2 separate regions of the Homo sapiens genome follow, and region 2 is reported to be linked to region 1. The links are microRNA targets in miRTarBase. Many come from high-throughput screens and were not tested one by one. Region 1 holds a microRNA gene; the other region holds the end of a gene's coding sequence.
The links. Region 1 holds the annotated microRNA hsa-miR-211-5p (UUCCCUUUGUCAUCCUUCGCCU, at 2,618-2,639, shown strand). A microRNA usually pairs through its seed, bases 2 to 8, with sites in the 3' UTR of a target mRNA and lowers its output. Matches are read on the target gene's strand: a 7mer-m8 pairs with bases 2 to 8, a 7mer-A1 pairs with bases 2 to 7 and ends in A, and an 8mer does both.

Region 2: the mRNA of ANKRD45 is a reported target of hsa-miR-211-5p. The part of its 3' UTR that is shown has no 7-base or 8-base seed match.

Annotation. Positions count from the first base shown.
Region 1 is chr15:31,063,539-31,067,733 of GRCh38, reverse strand. It overlaps MIR211 (microRNA 211), which reads left to right and starts at 2,593; the gene lies at 2,593-2,702. It overlaps TRPM1 (transient receptor potential cation channel subfamily M member 1), which reads left to right. Exons shown (of 28, transcript NM_001252024.2): 6 at 547-671; 7 at 1,487-1,658.
Region 2 is chr1:173,606,405-173,610,404 of GRCh38, forward strand. ANKRD45 (ankyrin repeat domain 45) reads right to left here. Exons shown (of 6, transcript NM_198493.3): 6 at 1,932-3,811. The coding sequence ends at 3,741. Among named protein-coding and RNA genes, the nearest start is that of SLC9C2, 5.3 kb to the left of the region's middle.

The DNA of each region.
Region 1 (4,195 bases):
GCTTGTGTTTTTTACTTTGATATGACTCTTAAAAAAAAACAGCAAATATAGTAATGATTGTCATAATGGTCAACATCTCTGGGTCACCCATGACATGCAATATTCCTTGAACTGAGCCCTGTACAAGCATCATCTTCATTAGACCTCTCGACAATCCTTTTCCTGTTATAGGACAGGAAACTGAGGCACAAAGACATTAAGGAACATACCAGGCAGTATGGCTCTCAATTTTCACTGAAGGCAGCCAAGGAATGCCAAAAAGACTCCAGTTATTTCCAGCTTTAGGCCTTAGACATCTGTAAAGGAAATCCCTACACAGTTGCTTTGGTTTCTGTTTTTGTTTTCCCGTTTCTAGAGTTAATGCAAGATTGCTCGTTATCATGAGCTCAGACTTTCAGTGTACTTTGTTTTAATGATAAAGATGAGTGTGTCTCACCCCTGATCTGTAGGGAATGTAGGGACTCAGGGCAAGTGTCCCTAAATTTCATGAATGATGGTGTGCTGGGAAGTAAAAGAGCCTAAAATATGACCAATGGCTGCTCACAGGTGTTATCAGCCACGTAGGGGATGCCTTGAAAGACCACTCCTCCAAGTCCAGAGGCCGGGTTTGTGCTATAGGAATTGCTCCATGGGGCATCGTGGAGAATAAGGAAGACCTGGTTGGAAAGGATGTAAGTGTTTTCTCTGCAAATGTTGGCAGTTTTTTAAAATTAATGATTGATTTTGAGGTAACCGTTGATTCAGATGCAGTTGTAAGAATAATAAGAGAGCTCCCTTGCAGCCTTTCCCATTCCTCCAATGGTAACATCTTGCAAAACCATAATGCAAGATCACAACCCGGATACTGTCATTGATAAGGTCAAGGTGCAGAATGTTTCCATCAACACGAGGATCCCTCCTGTTGCCCTTTCATATACATATACCTCACTCCTTCCTACCCCCACCTCTTCCTTAACCCCTGGAAACAACTAATCTGCACCACCCCGCATTTCAAGAAGGTTCTGTAAATGGAATCATACAGTAATGTAACCTTTGGGGATTGGCTTTTTTTTCACTCCACATAGTTCTCTGAACACGCGTCCAGGTTGCCATATGTATTGGTCTTCATTCCTTTTTACTGCTGGCTGACATCCCATGATATGGAGGCACCAGTTTCTTTAACCATTTGTCTGTTGAGGAACAGTTTGGCTGTTACAAGTAAAGTAGCCATAAACATTCCAGTGCAGGATTTGAGGTTAACATAGGTTTTCATTTCTCTGTGATAAATGCCAGGGGTGCAATTGCTAGGTTGTCATTATCTAAAACAATTAACTTTCTTTCTATTTTAATGTAACAATTGGCAAAAATAAAACCTTCAAAAGGCAGGGTAGAGATGTGAGAATAAGTTTTAGTGCAGTCACTCCACACATATGTATTGTGCTTGCTTCCCTTGTTGGTCTTAACATCCAAGTCCTGCAGGTCTGATTTGCGCTGTGCACTTTGTCAGGTAACAAGAGTGTACCAGACCATGTCCAACCCTCTAAGTAAGCTCTCTGTGCTCAACAACTCCCACACCCACTTCATCCTGGCTGACAATGGCACCCTGGGCAAGTATGGCGCCGAGGTGAAGCTGCGAAGGCTGCTGGAAAAGCACATCTCCCTGCAGAAGATCAACACAAGTAAGTGCTGGCAAAGGCACGCAGTCCTCCTGGGCTGATGCCATCACAGTGGAAACAAGGCTGAGAAGGAGATTGATTGCCCAAGGGGATTAGAAGATTAACCTTGCTTCTTGTTAGGTCAACAGAAAATGACTCACCTAGATGTCTTACCTTAGCCACCTACCAAATCACATTCACTGGGCTACATGGGGATGCTTTGCCCCAGGTTCACAAGTTAGCACGAAATAACCCTCAGTGCTCGCCATGGTGATGGCCTTGCCCACCCTGTTGCCCAGTGGTTCTTGTTCCCTGTAATTAGTTGTTATTTTTTAAGTGTTTTAACAGGAAAACAATTTCTCAAAGATTTAGTAGGATTCTTTCTATTTGCTGATAAGTATTATGTGATTATTAAATATCTCTGTAATGCTGGGCCTTTCATGTAGACTAAGATGGCCAGGTGGGGACATATCTGGAGAGGGCTGCAGGAGCCATCTGCTCCTGAAGGGGCATCATCCTTGCTGGTCCTGAGGGGGAGCTGTCACTGTCAGACGAAAGCTGAGGTCGAACTAGAGAGAAAGACGCAAACCTCAACCAGAAGAAACAATGATAACAACTGGTTAGAATTACAATAACTGGTATAATCTCTTGGAGCATGTTTATACTCCAGTAATTCTTAACGTCAAACAATTGTTAAATGATCTGAAAGAGCAGTTTGTTTTTCCCATTACTGGCAAGATTTTTGTGGGAGACCATCTAGTCCTGGCGAATGGTCATTGGGAATCATCATGTATGGGACTGTGATGCTGCAGAGTGGGTAGAATGGGGATGGCCTACTAGGAAAAGTTGTAGATTTCCGAGAATCAGATCTCGAAGAATACATTGGTCGATGACTGAATGTTTTTTGTTCTCACATCTCTAATTTTTCTGGACTTGTAAGTTTTTACAACACCCCATTTCACCTGGCCATGTGACTTGTGGGCTTCCCTTTGTCATCCTTCGCCTAGGGCTCTGAGCAGGGCAGGGACAGCAAAGGGGTGCTCAGTTGTCACTTCCCACAGCACGGAGCTTCGAGGACTCCAGCCTAAGCCAAGAAGAACCTGTTCTACTCTGTTGCTCGAAAAGAAGGTGATTTGGCCACCATATTCCTAAAGATTGAAAATATCAATCCTTGCTTGGGTTGGAAATCTCAAAGGCGGAGTCCAGGATATCTTAGTTCATTTTTCCAATATCTCCTGGTCAGGGCTTTGCACAAAGCAGACCCTCAATGCATGTCTGCTGAAATGAACTTAGCTGTAATTACTCTGGTGGACACAGCAGAGTTATTCAACATATGTAAGAGTCCCTGACTGTAGAAACACCTCATGGAAGCAAATTAGAAACTCTGAAATGGCTCATTTGAAATTCTCCAATCTTCTCTTAACCAATGCTGGCAGATTTTTATCTGAAGCCCTTCAGAGCTGAGACCAACGATACTTCCACTTGCCTTTAGTTAATATCGATCAACTAATTCCCATCACAACTAATGGACAGCTGGTGAAATAGGCTCAGAGTGTGATCTGTCATGGCCAGTGTGGCATAAAATTAGGAAGTAGGCAAATGTGCCTCCACTCCCATTTCCTTCCCATTCCAGAATCCCAACTTCCTGGAATCTTCCTGCCACCTCTTGCTTCCCAGAGCCATGCCTGCAGGTTCTGCCACCAAAAGTTAGTTGGTACCCACTGTGTTCTTGAAGAGTCCTATTAACTGATAGAGACAGAGGGAGGACTCTGGGAACAGGTCATTAACTGATGGGCCACTAGTGGTCCAAGTGGCTGCGTCCAAGATCTGCACTTTATTCCAGCCACTGAAGACAGAAACGTCAACAAGAACAGTGTACCTCATTTGTATGCTACTTAACGTTTACAAAATTATTTGCTAGCCAAACACATATTCTGATATTTTTACAACTGCAGGAGTTAAAGGAAGCACTGTGATTGTTCACCTTTTACAAATGGCTGTCTAAGGCTCTTGGTGATTTGGTGATTGGCCCAGTGTCATAAGGGAGAAGCCAGGAATTGAACTGCAATTTCCCTGGCTGGTCCAGATCCCCTTTCATCATCTTATTCTTCAGGGACAGCCATCAGGGTGGGAATTTCAGACCATAGGCTAGGACAGCCAGGGGGATATTTTTCCAGCCAGGAATACCTTCCAATATTTCTCAGTGGTCACCTTGAAGTAGCCCCAACATCAGGTGGGTGGGTTATTCAGGAGTTTAACCATATGTGAGTCAGAAAGTTTCAGACTTTGAGGTCCTGGTTTTCCCAATGAGGCCATAATATGTGACAGAATGCAAGAATGATAACTGGGCTGGGCACAGTGGCTTACACCTGTAATCCTAGCACTTTGGGAGGCCAAGGCAGGTGGATCACTTGAGCCCAGGTGTTTGAGACCAGCCTGGGCAACATGGCAAGACTTCATCTCTACCAAAAATTAGCCAGGTGTGGTGGCATGTGCCCATAGTCCCAGCTACTCAGGAGGCTGAGGTGGGAGGATTGCCTGAGCTGAGAGGGAGGTTGAGG
Region 2 (4,000 bases), not on the chromosome of region 1:
AAGAACAGAGACACATCTCTCTACGTGAGGAATGTCATGACCATATTGTAAGAAGAGCATGTGGGAAGGGAGATGTGGCCATCCTGGAAAATACAATCTACCACATATTAGATTGAACATGGGGGCAAGTGTCAGTCCTTTACAATCTGGGGGCATCATGTTAATCTAAATAGCAATCTACTTAGTCCAGAGCAGTAGTTCTCAAAGGCTGGACCACAGGCCAGTTCTGATTCATGACAAAAGTTCCATCATATATGACAAAATAAGAAAAATAAATACAACATAAAGGTCTATAATAAAACTTAATTTATTTAACTTAAAGGGTAGAGCCCTACACTGAGATCTCTTCCCTTTTCTGGTGTTAAAATGTCTTTTGTTAAATGATAGTGATAGTAGATAGTAGTTGTTTTATTAATGATGTCCTATCAATCTCCTCCCCTTTTTTTACATTTTTTCTGTTCAATTAAATACAGAAGTCTAAAGAACTACTGCCTAAAAGTTATCATAACATTGAATTTAGCCTTTGATTGACTACTTCCCAAATAATGTGGAGGCTTCATTGATTTATTAGTATGCACTTTGAATAGTAATTACTTTGTGGATGTTCAGAAAAAGCCATGCAGCTACCTATGTAACAGCTCAAACTCAAAGCCTACGGGCATTTAAAGTTGCCTATGAATAGATCTATAATTCAATGTAACAATATGTAACAAGAGATACTATAACTCTCAAAATGGACTAAAATTGTAAATCTATAGATATAAATAAATGTTCAGATTCTCACATCAAAGGAATCTTTGACATGAGATCCAGGAATCTGTTGTAATCACTTGGTTCACATGCCAGAAAGTAAAATGACATTCAATGTGAAGGCTTAGAAAATAGAAGGTCAGAGGAGAAATTAGGCGTAGAGATGTTGGATGTATGTGTGGCTTATCTGCTAGAGGAGTAGGAGTTAAAATGGGGCAAGATATGGAGATAAGTGTTGGGAGTCATTTTTATAAAGGTGCACAAGCTCTATAAATTAATGAAGAGGTAATGAGTTCTATGTATAAGGTATTACTAAAAGATAATTCATTCAGTTATTTACTAACTTACTGTTTTATGGACTTTTTAGGTATAAAAAAAGAACAAAACAAAATCCCTACCCTCAAAAAGCTTACAATTCACACAGAAGGACAAACCTGTGAACAATTAAGTAGAATACAGTATGAGGCTATTAGCACTATGGGTGCCCTAAAGAGGGAAAGACTCATTCTTCATAATACTGGTGACAGGGAAGGTCATGGAATAGAGAATTACAGATTGCTTTACCAAAGGTTAGGATTGAATTTTGAGAAATTCTCACAACTGGGGGCAAGAGGAAGAAGAGGAACTGGTGAAGGAGTTAGAAAAGCAGTTTTAAGAGAGTAGAGGAATCATAATTGACATAAAAGTACCAACACAAGGAGTTTAAAAATAGCATCAGCAAATATATCAAAAGCTATAAAAAGTTTGAGGATAAGGATTGAAAGATTAATAAAGAGGGAAAATAGGTTTATTTTATACTAAGGGGTCTCCAGAAATGCCTTGGTCTAATTTAGAAATCTTTGAAGTAAGAATCCAGGAATCCCTCCCTAATCTGGAACACACTCCTGGAAAATAATGTTGTATTCAAAATCCAAGCTCAGAAAATGTAGCGTTAGAGTAGAAAGGACAAAAATGGCACCTGGACTTTTCCTAAATTATTGCAGTCCTTAAGGACACCGGTCTTCGCACAATATACTGTATTAAGAAAATGGGCTAGGCATAGTGGTTCACAGCTGTAATCCCAGGACTTTGGGAGGCCAAGTCAGGAGGAATGCTAGAGGCCAGGAACTCAAAGACCAGCCTGGGAAACGTAGCAAGACTCTATCTCTGCAAATTTTTATTTGTTTTTATTATTATTTTTTGAGATGGAGTCTCACTCTGTCACCCAGGCTGGAATGCAGTGGTGCGATCTCGGCTCACTGCAACCTCCACCTCCCGGGCTCAGGTGATTCTCCTGCCTCAGCCTCCCAAGTCACTGGGATTACAGGCACGTGCCACCACATACAGCTAAATTTTTGTATTTTTAGTAGAGACAGGGTTTCACCATGTTGGCCAGGCTTGTCTCAAACCGCTGACCTCAGGTGATCCGCCTGCCTTGGCCTCCCAAAGTTCTTGGATTACAGGTGTGAGCCAGCACCCAGCCTGCAAATGTTTATTTTTTCAATTACCCAAGCATGGTGGGAGGATCACTTGAGTGCAGGAGTTACAGGTTACAGTGAGCTATGATCATGATAACTCCACTGCATTCCAGCCTGGGCAGGAGAGGCAGACCCTGTCAAGAAGGTTGCGGGGGTGGAGAGAGAGAGAGAGATAAGAGAGGAAGAAGAAGGAGTTGGAGAGGGAAGAGGAGGAGGAGAGAGAAGAGGAGGGGGAGGGGAGGGGAGAGGAAGGGAGGGGAGGGGAGAGGAAGGGAGGGGAGGGGAGAGGAAGGGAGAGGAAGGGAGGGGAAGGGAGGGGAAGGGAGGGGAAGGGAGAGGAAGGGAGAGGAAGGAGAAGGGGAAGGGAAGGGAAAAGGGAGAAGGGAGAAGGAGGGTAAAAAAAAAAAAGGAGCAAACACAGGTCTTCTTTGTACTGCTCCATAAACACCCACTGGGTCGGCCAAAAAGGTGGCTGAAAGTTATTGCAGTGTTCTTTTGCTTTAAAAAATTGAAACTGAATTGCTCATACATTAAAAGGATAAAAAACTAAAAACTTTGGGAGACATTTAAAACAGGGTTATCTCAAAACCATGGTTAAATAAATGTCAACTGACAAAGTATTACTGAATTACCCATTCCTTTTCCTTCTCCCCATAAGGGAAAACTAGCTTTCAGAACAGGACAAAGAAGAGAAAGCCATAAGAACGAACAATAAGTGCTTTTTAAAAACCATCTTCTTTTCTATAAAACTTTTCCATAAAGTCACAACGTAAGAGAAGGTTGAGGCGCCTGATTAAATAAATTAGAAAAAAGGCTTTCCAAACCACCAATATGAAACCAACTATCGTACTTAAAACCTAGGAAATATAAAACAGAATGGGAGGGGAAATGGTCTTCAGTCCAGTTACAATATCTGTATTGCCAGCCTTACAGAATAGGAGAACTCTTCTAAGTATAAAACTATACAGATTTGTGTTTATTAATTTACAGATAGAAGGAGGTCAAAGATAAAGAGGGGTTTTACTCAGAGGTATACCCCACCTCACAGGTGAAATTTAATTTTGGACATAAAAAGTGATAGTTGTACCCAGAGGCTCCTAATCCAAGCTGGTCTTAATATTTCCTTGCTCCAAGTGTCATTCCATAAGATTTCCTTTTTAGGCAGGGAGAACAAATTTTTTCTCTGGAAATAGCCAAATATGTCCTTTTATATGGAATGCCTCAATTACACAGAAAATTATTAGATTCTCTGAGTAGTTCTTAAAGCCTCCACATGGTCTTCACGAATGATTTATACCCAAGTGCTTTCCTGAAGGAGCACGTGAAACTCACATGGGGCTGTGCTTGGAGGAGCAGAGGCGAGGCCAGAGTCCGGACATAAGCATGCTGAACAGGTCAAACAAAACAAGGGCGATGTAATGTTGTACTTAAATACTTAAAGAAACCCACATCTGTTTTCTCGATTTCAAATGGCATGAATAGGTTTGCCTTTCAGATACTAAAAGAAAATGTGGCCTTTTACAGAACGTATGTTCAGTTGGAGGTATCATCTTGACTTCTCTTCTGGTCATGGCTTGTTACAGATTTGGCACTTTTCACTTGACCTGAAAGGAAACAGATTTTAAAATTACATTTAATTAGTTTGCAATATGAAACAAAATGAAGCCAGTTTTTAAGACAATAAGAATGGAATAAATTAGATTGTCCCAGGCTGAACCAGCTACTAATTCAACCCTAGTGTTGTTGGTATGTCATTCAAATAGTCTCTCCTGTTCACTATATTTAAAGCTGTG